Regions from separate parts of the Homo sapiens genome. Here regions 2, 3 and 4 are each linked to region 1. The links come from fine-mapping of genetic effects on gene expression. A gene starts in region 1. Each other region holds a variant in brackets. All regions are shown on one strand. Distances are between the middles of the regions.

Evidence for each region. PIP is the estimated chance that this variant, and not a neighbour inherited with it, causes the effect. A credible set is the group of variants that fine-mapping cannot tell apart.
Region 2: its variant is the best candidate, but not a certain one, in a credible set for the expression of RECQL in lung (TOPMed, PIP 0.74).
Region 3: its variant is the best candidate, but not a certain one, in a credible set for the expression of RECQL in whole blood (INTERVAL, PIP 0.69).
Region 4: its variant is the best candidate, but not a certain one, in a credible set for the expression of RECQL in pancreas (GTEx, PIP 0.53).

Annotation. Positions count from the first base shown.
Region 1 is chr12:21,499,995-21,502,764 of GRCh38, forward strand. It overlaps RECQL (RecQ like helicase), which reads right to left and starts at 1,641. Exons shown (of 15, transcript NM_002907.4): 1 at 1,176-1,641. GOLT1B (golgi transport 1B) reads left to right here and starts at 1,795. Exons shown (of 5, transcript NM_016072.5): 1 at 1,795-1,954. The coding sequence starts at 1,930. RefSeq lists enhancers at 925-994, 1,015-1,064, 1,105-1,294, 1,435-1,494, 1,445-2,152 and 1 more.
Region 2 is chr12:21,475,405-21,477,904 of GRCh38, forward strand. It overlaps RECQL (RecQ like helicase), which reads right to left. Exons shown (of 15, transcript NM_002907.4): 7 at 2,399-2,500; 8 at 1,507-1,588; 9 at 272-420; 10 at 64-181. Among named protein-coding and RNA genes, the nearest start is that of RECQL, 25 kb to the right of the region's middle. The variant T/C (reference allele first, on the strand shown) is at 975.
Region 3 is chr12:21,452,852-21,455,351 of GRCh38, forward strand. PYROXD1 (pyridine nucleotide-disulphide oxidoreductase domain 1) reads left to right here. Exons shown (of 12, transcript NM_024854.5): 6 at 2,281-2,441. Among named protein-coding and RNA genes, the nearest start is that of PYROXD1, 16 kb to the left of the region's middle. The variant CTA/C (reference allele first, on the strand shown) is at 1,167.
Region 4 is chr12:21,558,963-21,561,462 of GRCh38, forward strand. It overlaps GYS2 (glycogen synthase 2), which reads right to left. Exons shown (of 16, transcript NM_021957.4): 8 at 1,424-1,530; 9 at 689-748; 10 at 129-207. Among named protein-coding and RNA genes, the nearest start is that of SPX, 34 kb to the left of the region's middle. RefSeq lists an enhancer at 1-161. The variant T/A (reference allele first, on the strand shown) is at 1,412.

The DNA of each region.
Region 1 (2,770 bases):
TTACTATGTTAGGCAAAGTTGCATATGCTGTTCCTCCAAGCCTCTTTCCCTACCTGTAAAACTGGGAGGATGGCAATCTTATAAATAAGTTGGATAGATTCAAATGTACCAGATTAAGCAAAATACATCAACATAAATAATAAAATTAATCATCTAACATTTTATTGAGCCCTTGCGTTAAAGAATTACAATATAAGCCCAATCTTAAAAGAGAAACTGGTATTCTACAGAAAAGCTAGATTTTCTAAGTTAGAGGTGGGGGGAGGGGAAAATGGTTTGTAATGATTTCTAAGTATCTATGAATGACTAAAACCTAAGCATGCATATGGACAAGTGGAAAATGGGGCTGGAGAGTAGAAACTTTAAATTCCCCATAATCCTAAAAACACCTCTTCTATCTCTCTAATATGGACATTTTCTAAAACTAAGATGCTCTCCAAAAGTCACTTCTGCAACACCTATCCTTAGACTGCTGACCTTACGCCCTTTCTACACAGAATTCTGAAGCCACCACTAGGCCGGAAAGATAGGCTGACTCTTTTTTGCCTTGCTAAAGAATGTGGAATAACCACACCATTAAAAGAAGGCTAAATAGGAGAGTAAACCAAGGATTTCTAATTCTTGATCTATACAAACATCTCTTCACGTAATGAAAATGTAACATTCCTTCCATAGACTGTAAGGTCCTTTAGCAGGGCTGGGGTTCAATCTCTTCACCTTTGTATCCGCACAGCCCAGGAAAATGCCTTGATGTAGTGAGGGCTCAGGTTTGCTAAGGTAGCAGGGGCTGTTTCTACCCTTATGAAAAGACACAGTCTATATCCAATTCTCCCCCACGATTTTAAATGACTCCTTTGATTATGCGGTTAAAAGACTGCTCCTTCCCAAAATGATGTGATTTAACAGCAAAAGATATCTCAACATAAAATGTATCCAGAAATTGAACTACAGCAGGTCTGTCACTCAGCAGTATAAGCTAGGCATCCACAGGAAGAATGTTACAGGGTGACAGCCAGTCATCAATGTTGGAGGAAACGCCACTGAGATACCATAGGCTAAATCCTCTCTCTCCCCGCCACCTGCATTTAGAGGCAATAGTAATTTAATATTAATAACGCCCGCCCTTCCGCTACTGTGAAGCAGGGGGTGGAAGAAGCATCCCCAGTAGTATTTACCAACAAATGGCAGCTGCTAATAAACAGGCTTTGGTGGCCAATCCTCCTGCATGGAAAAGAATGGGGAGATCAGAAGACCGGTCAGCAGGCGAACGTGCCCCTAAAGGCCCGAGTTCTCAGAGCAGGGCAGTGATTAACTTTCCGGTTTCTCCTCCGCCAATGTGTGGGCGAAAGGAAGTGATCCGCTACAGACCGGCCTCGCCCTGCAGCAGGAAAGGGAAGGATGAAACAAAAAGCGCACACCCTTGACCCTTCAAAGCTGTAACAGTAGTTATCCCAGAGCCTCTCCCCACCGAGAAGCCCGGTCTAACTCTCCGGTGTTTGACTGTCCGGTGTCCGACTGTCCTGTGTCCGACTCTCCGATCTCCGACTCTCGGATCTCCGACACCAAAGCACCCAGGCCTCGAGCAGATCTTTCCGCTACTCGGGAGTAAAATCTTCCCGCCAGCCAGCTGAGAGCATCCACCCTTCCGGGTCGGTCCGTTCAGCCAATCACAGATAACTCCCTTCTCTAATTGGTCAAGGGGTGTGGTCACCATGCGCGTCACCGAACAACATTACGAGTTATTGGTTGAGATTGGAAGCAGGTTTCGCCAATAGGAAGCGCTCTTAAAGCGGCAGTGAGGGTGGCTGCGTGTTTCCGGAAGACGTGGCGGCTCTCGCCTGGGCTGTTTCCCGGCTTCATTTCTCCCGACTCAGCTTCCCACCCTGGGCTTTCCGAGGTGCTGTCGCCGCTGTCCCCACCACTGCAGCCATGATCTCCTTAACGGACACGCAGAGTAAGCACCTGCTCCGGGGCCCCCGCCTCGAGCCGCGCACACCCATCGCCCGGCTGGGTCTCGCCCCTCCGCCGGGGTCAATGAATGAAGCTCTGGGTTGGGGGCGGTGGCCTGCGAGACAGAGCTAGGGCTGCTGGGACCCTAAGGGGCTGCCTTCGGGATGCCGGGGCTAGACTTGGACTGGCGGACCTGACCTGGGAGAAGAGTCTGTGGGGCAGGGTGGGACGCCCTATGTTGGGAGGGGAGCTTTAGCCCAGAGTCTGTCTCATTCCAGGGTCGCGCTGATCTCCTCATCCCCAGTGAGATGGGCGCTTTGTTCTAGGGGCTTGCCACAAGAGAAAGTTTGCGTGGTGCCCGCGGCCCACTCTCGGGATCGTTTATGCGCATGACACACTTCGGGTCCTCTACAAGTCCCTGGCTGGCTGGTTATTTGGGAGGCGGTATTTTAAATGTCACCTACAGTAGGCTCTTTTTGAAAATGTCCTTACGCTTAAATGTGGCATTTTGAATATTCGCTTTTTGCCAGTACTGTAAGCAACCTTTTAGAAGTCTCTTGAAACATTCTCACTTTTCTACCTGCTAAAGTTTCAAGCAGTAGAGAAAAGCCACTTTGTGTGCCATTAAAGGATATATTTCGTTAGTATTGTATATTGTGCTTTGTGGCTTGTTTTATTATTTTAGCATCGCTCTCTGCCTGCCACAGAGTTCTCCAGGCCTATTTCATCTCTAAAGCTAGCATTGATATCGGTTTCCTTTTCTTTCATTATAATATTTCCACTTTCCTACTGCTTTTTGTTAATATTAATAATTTTTGTA
Region 2 (2,500 bases), 25 kb before region 1:
TTTATCATGTATTTTTTGGAAAAGCTTTCTAAAAATTTACTTCTGGATTTGAGTCCTACATACCTGCACGTCCACTCTCTTGGTAATAATTTTCCATGGATTTACTCATTGAATGATGGATAACAAACCTCACATCTGGCTTATCAATTCCCATACCAAATGCAACAGTTGCCACTACTACCTGAAATATTTTAACATTTTATCAGTTAATTAAATCAAGTTTAAATATTTTAAAGGTAAATTAGGCTTCTATGGAAGATATAGACCTAACCTGAATTTCATTGGCTGACCATTTTCTATGAACTGTGGTCTTATCTTCTGGCTCCAAATTGGCATGGTAAGCACCTGCATGAATTCCCAGATTCTGCAAACTAACCGTAACTTGTTCAGAGTCTTTCTGAGAAAAACAATATATGATTCCTGCAGTAAAATATGTGCATTTGTTAGATAGATATGGCATATTCCTGGAAGATGGTTTTCAACACACACATTCAGGACATTGATTAATACAATGCACAGAAGGAAAAAAAGAATTATGAAAAATTTCAAGGCCTTGTGCATATATTGACATTTTGGTATAATTCCAGATTTGAGCACCAGCTTCCTTTAAAGCAGAAATGAGCCTGAGCCATCAGTTTTTGTTCCTGTTATCTCTTTTCTCTCTTTAACTTTATCTCCCACTAAACAGTATTTCTCAAACTGATGTCTGTAAGATGCTAACAAATGTGCTATGAATGCAGTGTTCTCCAGATTAATTTTGGGTTAATTTAGATTAATTTGCATGCAAATTAATTTGGAGAACATTGCATTCAACAAAGTTAAATGGGTGTCTCTCTTTATTTTCAGGGATGGTCAGAGCTTCTAGTTTGCTGATACACCCTGTGAACATCCAGGCAGAATAAATACCTGCAACCTTTCTCAAATTCATTTGACCCTAGAACTCCTTTTACCCAGGACTACCTCCTGAAAATCTA[T/C]AGAACAGTTTAAAATGCTACTTTCACACAAATTCTTTGCTTCAGTAACATTTGCTTAGTCATTAAACCCAGAAAACCATGTATATATACTCACAACTCGATCTGTGCTTAATCTATTCAGTATGTACTACTGGATTTATTTATTGCTTTAACGTGTCCTTTACTGTAAGGGAGTATATTTTCTATCCCTTTAGAATATCAGTTGCTTAATCCACTATTTTGTACACAGTGGATACATACTAAATATGTGCTGTTGATAATTAACATTAAGTCATCAGGTCTATTCTAAAGCAAGTGTAAATAAGCAAAAATAAATCAGGCAATTTGACGACTCATAATCTATGGCATAAGCAAATGTCACACCCAATTTCTAAGATCAAGTGAATTAATTTTATCACGTATTTTCAAGTATCTTCTGCTATACATTAATTTTTTTTGGTGTTATTCAGTTATCAGTATAATTATCAATATGATATGAAGTCACTTTTTGAAAGTTATCTCTGTCTCCAAAGTTGGTTTGTTTTTACATTACCTGATTGCCCTTTGTATCTCCCATTAATGAGCTTTACAATATCCTCAATAAAATCTTCAGTGTTTGAGGGCTTCTGCCGAACCTAAAAAAAACTTAACTTATTAAAAAGTAAATGAATGAGTACCATCCAAGTGGCTGTCTATGTACAACTTTCAGGATGCAGTTCTTTCATGACCATAGTGTTTTTTTTCCTATTACTCTTTCACTTACTCACAGGATTCAACCCATCTGACTCATCTGTTCCTCCTCCCAGACTCTTCTTGATCTTTATTTTTTTAATTTACCAGAGAAGAGCAAGCACATGAGCAGTGAATAACTTGCAAGGATGCAGACTTTTTTATTTTGCGATGCTACTTTTATAAAAACAAACCGTAACATAAATAACTCTTTAATGAAAACTCAGAAAAATATTAAATCTATTCTTAAAAGGGTTTAGAAAGAAAGAAAAGACAGCTGTTAGGTTATTTGATTTTCAAGTTTATCAAATAAAATTCAAATAGAATTGGCAAATCTTTAATGGCATATGAATACTTCTATCACTTAGTAATTAATTTGAACAGAGATGTTATTAGGGTCCTTAGTATCACTCCATCCTTTCTCTCCATCTTTATACAAAAAAGAACATACAGAAATTTAACAAAGATATATGACTTACTCATATGTTTTATAAAAAGTATCACCTAGCAGGTGTCTTCCATTTAATCTAACAAAGGTTTATGTAGCAAAAGATACATGAATGAAGCCCTAATCACAGAATCTACTTATAATTACCTCCTAATGTTAAAAATTTTTGTAAGTACTTAACTGCTCATGTAAATAAACATAATAAAAAGGCAGATCCCCTCTGCGTAATTCTTCACAAAAGTAAGGAATTGACATAAAAATTACATACCTCATAATATAGATTTGGCCTATTAAAAGAAGCTGTAAAAGTAAAACACTTTTCAATGCACAAAATTTTCTGAGCATCCGTCAAAACGTGATTTGTTGCAGT
Region 3 (2,500 bases), 47 kb before region 1:
AAAATAAGGACTCTGCCAAAGCCATATCTTTGCTCACTTGCATTCAATCCAACTCTCAGACTAGGTTTTTGCCCCTCTTTTAGCGGATGATCTCACCCAGTGGAAGCCTGTAAGAGTTCTTAAATTGCCTGAGTACTATGGGTAACAGTCATTATTGTTATTATGAAGTTTGTGGCATTATATGGAGAAATACAGAGAAAGGGTCAAAACCAAAATGTGGGCCAAGAGGGAAGAGGTATAGATTTATTGTAAATGGGGCTTCAAATCCTTGTGTATAGTATATACATGCCAGATTTTCTCTATCAGCTCTCACCAAAGTATCACTTACTATTATTATAATTGTTATTTACATTTAAAAATTTTATGTTCAAAAATGTTCAGAGTCTTACATTTAATCCTATTCATCATTTTCTTTAAGTTGGAGATTGAAGACTGTATAATTGGATAAAACTCATAGTTTTGTATTTAGTAAGCTCTTCTTTGGTAATTAAAAATGGACCCACATAATGTTATTCTCTGACTTGAGGTCTGCTGCGTGATTAGGTCTTTGTCTCTCGTGAAACTTGGCATACCCATACCCTTTCTACACTGTGTTTCAGTGAAACTAATACTAATGTTCTTCATTATACATTTATTTCAGTTATTATCTGTTTTCTCCTTTCTAAGTGTAAGTTAATCCTTTCCTTTTCAAACAGATACTGTTTTTCATAACTTCACAAAACCGTAATATCTCATTGTCTGCTTCTGTAGAGTCATTTTCAAAATGAAAGCAGTATTTCCCCTCTGTGTGATGATAATCGTCAAACTGTGCATCTTGCTGAGAACATAGTTCAAGTCAGGAAAAGAGGATTAGAAGGTGTCCTAGGAGGTAGAGCAAGTACTGAAGTTTCTTGTGGTTACTTGTAATAACTTTGTCTGCTAGTCAGTCATCAGTATGCTGAAGTGCACTGATAGGTGTTATAGTGTAATATTACTTTAAATTTAAAAATGGTAATATAGAGAAATTCCCAGTTTTTCAAAAAGAAAGCATTACATGATAACTGTATGCCTGTATGTAAATTGAAATACAAACTTTATTACCAAATTTGTGTGTATTCCACTTTCCGCTGGTCAGTAATGCTATATGACCAGAGTAACATAAAATAGAATGTTCACCCAATAATCTT[CTA/C]TGTTTACTGACATAGAAGAGCTGGAAAAACGAAGACTTATTAGGTAAAGCAAGGAGTTCCTTATCACCATATGTTGAAAAGTATGAATATCAAGTGACCTGGATTCAGATGTACTAAACCTTTTTTCGTAATCTGTTTATTGATTAGTCTTGAAAAGTCGTGTAACCTATGTTATATCAGTCTGTGAAATAAAGATGACAATACTTTGTACCGTAAAGAAATGTGAAAAATTAATACCTTAACTTTTTACAGTATTTTATTAGTATCGCAAGTTTAGATAAAATCCTATTATAGTTAGGATGGCCATATATCTTGTTTGTCTGGGATTGTCTCCATTTCCACCAGTTGTACCAAAAATGATTATTAGTAGCAGATAGTATCCCAGGTTAGGTGATAAATTATGTGATCACCTTAATTATAATGGACTTCAGGGACTTTGTGAAAGGAATATTGTTAGGAAAACCACTTCTTAGCATCTAAACCTAGAATAAAATATCACATGCCCATTACCTTACATTAGTGGTAAATAGTAATAGAAGGTGGCTTATATATACCATTTTCATTCTTTCCTTCCTCTAAGATCCTTGATCCTTGATCTTGATCCTTAAGATTTTTAGCTTATAACTCTGATTCTTTCCATTTTCTATCCCTTTCCGTAATGTGCTTTGAAGATATAAAAAGTTGTTACCAAATAAGTGACTGATTCTCAATATTATAGCTATGTGCCATCCATCCATTACTTGATTACACTATAACCAGATTTTTTAAAAAGCACTGCTTACCCCTGGGGGCCATTCATATAATAAGTGTATTGTAGAAATTGAACATTTTCTAATGATGTACACTGTAATGAAATTTTACTTGATATTCAGTACATGTATTTGTCACTTAAAGGTTCTTTCTGTAAACTGCTTCAGATTCTTTTACTATTCAATTTTTAATTCTTAACATCTGTAAAGAACGTTAATATTCCTCTTTATAATCAATCTTTCCCAGTTAGCCTTAAAAATGTATTCCCTACTTTTGCTTCAGGAGATCATTATTTGCAAATGCAAAGATTTTTTACTTAGACTTTTGAAATCACTCTTAGTAACTTTAACATTGTTTTTAGGTATGAAATTGAAGGCTGTGAAGTGATTTGGGCCATTAAAGATAAAGCTATAGGGAATACTTTCTTCGATGCAGGAGCAGCTGAATTCTTGACTTCAAAGCTCATTGCTGAAAAATCAGAGGCTAAAATTGCACATAAAAGAACCAGATATACAACTGAAGGTAAGTGTAGCACCTAGCTCATTAATTCTCATACAAAACTTTTTTAAAACCATATAGAA
Region 4 (2,500 bases), 59 kb after region 1:
ATGTAAGAATGTCTTTTCTAGCCTCAGGTCTGAAAATGTTCCAAATTAGCACATTCCAATAAATTAAAATACTGATTAGATAGAATTTAATAACTATGGGACATAGTGGGTGCTTTTTTCCTTATTACCTGAGTTGAAAAGATGGCTCTTTTCATAATTGTTAGATCATCTCGATCTAAAATATCGTTCAGGTCAGGAATTTCTCCTCTGCAGGGAAAAAATGTTAATAACAAAAATAAAAACAGCTGGCACTAATTCAGTGATTCCTAAGCATCAGATTATATATTATATATTTCATGTATTTTAATAAATAATGTTGATTATTCTATTAAGTAAATGTGTTCACATAGACTTAATATTTAAGTACATATTTAATACACATTGTCAATATATATTTTGAATTAAAATCTCATGAAGTCTCTCTCAGCTTCAGACTGACATATCAACCCTTAATGAGTTCATCATTGAATTAGAACTTGCCTGCATATAAATGTATTCTTATTTGTACAGCTATTTACAAGTTTTGTCAAATGAAGGGTAAAATACTGTTCACATGACATAACACATTTTCAAAGGTTATTAATTCCTTGATATTTGGAACAAAATTAATAAGTTATGATGTCTAAATTGTTAAATTTGAATAGTGAAACCTTAAGTGATTGAAGTAGAAAGCATTTCAAGCACCTACCTTAATAATGCATCATAGAGTTTTTTTCCAAACTTTTCCTTCACAGAATGTGCAACATCCCTGTTTGAAACAGAAAGATTTATCATTTAAACAGTATGACAATGTTTAATCTTTATTTGTCACGATAATGCTATTGTTTTGTTGACATTCTTTGAAATTACATTCTTTGAAATTACAGGTATCTTTTTTATAGTCTCTTCTATTATTTTACTACTTGCCAATTCAGCTTAAGTTGACATCTCCAGAGCTGAGGCAACAGAACACCATGGCCAGCACAAAGAGCTTAAAATTTTTTTGCTTCATGATGATTGGAACAGGATAGAGAGCAGAGAGGGGGAGTAGATGAAGGTATAGGTGTAACAAGACGGGAATTCGTTGATCATTGTTGAATCTGAACTATGAGTATACAGGGAGTCATATTACTAAGCTTTTTACTTGACATGTTCTTAGAATTTCACAATAGAAAGTTAAAAAATGTTTGACTCATCTTTAAAGATTTCTACAGGGCCTTGTTCCTTCAATGGTAGCTCATTCCAAAATTTGTATAACACCTATAATGTTATAACCATTACGATAACCTAAAATAGTAGCACGATGAAAAGAGAGTCAAGTATTATTTGTCTGTAATAATCTTAAGGAAAAAACAAAGTTCAAGGCGATACATGAGATGTCATTCACTTAAAAGAAATCTTTTCACATTTATTGCTAGAGAACATTCACAGG[T/A]TGTGAGATTACCACAGCTGTTTTCGCACTGCTTGTCCTTTCAGGGTTTCCACGTTGAAATTATTTGTCTTGGCAGGCATAATGAAAAACACCATCACTGTGATGTCACTTTTATGCATCTGATGAGGAATTAGAAAACACAGAGTCAACTATCAAAGATTTTTAAAAAGTATGATAGATGGAACTTAAACATTGAAAAGTAGAGTTTTAAAATATCAGTAGATAAAAGGTATAGTTATTTATGTTTCACAGAGAGATTATATTCACCTTCCTGAGACTTTTTCAGAAATTTTAATTAAAATCAAAATAAATTTTAAATTTTCAGTCTGTACTTGCCAATAAACAAATTGACTTTCAATCAGTATTTGTCAGTTAACAATTTGAAAATTCAAACAAAATATTTTCGTGCCTTTGACCATCTAGAATAGATAACAATTGCTATTGATGACACTGTGCTTTTCTGTGGTTAAAAAAATAGCATGAATGAGAGCTAATATTACAAGACCAAAATTAGTTCTTTAAAATTTCAGATTGGAAGTTTAATGAAGATTTAAGCTTTGGTAAAAGCTAAAATAATATTTCAATTTTTTTGCTTATTCATGTTGATTGATGACAGATAGATTATTTTTACTTTTCCGCTAAATGTCTTGATTCTCATGATGTTGTATTTTGGTTTTTAGCCCTAAAGCAAAGAAACAAGCACATGACGAGCACTTTTGGGATAGCAGACACTGTGCTGGGTGCTTTAAATATACTACTAATAATCATGTACAATAGGCATTTCTCTCCTCATTTTATTAATGTCAAAAGAAAGGAATGAGAGGTTAAATATTTTCTCTGAGTCCTATAACAGGTTAGTGCCAAAGCTGACATTTAAACTGCTGGCTTAGCATCTCTCAAAAGGAAATGACTTGTTAAGAAGCTGTAAGAATGAAAGCATAAACTCACTTAAAATCATGAACCTCTATGAAGGTTTATGTGTTCTGGAAATGACTGACTAGCTCCAGAGTGTGGGGCACTTTACCGTCTAGTATGCAGCCTCGGCCCTCTAGGGCCTGACATTTTATTAGGGAAAGCTACTGAAGGCAT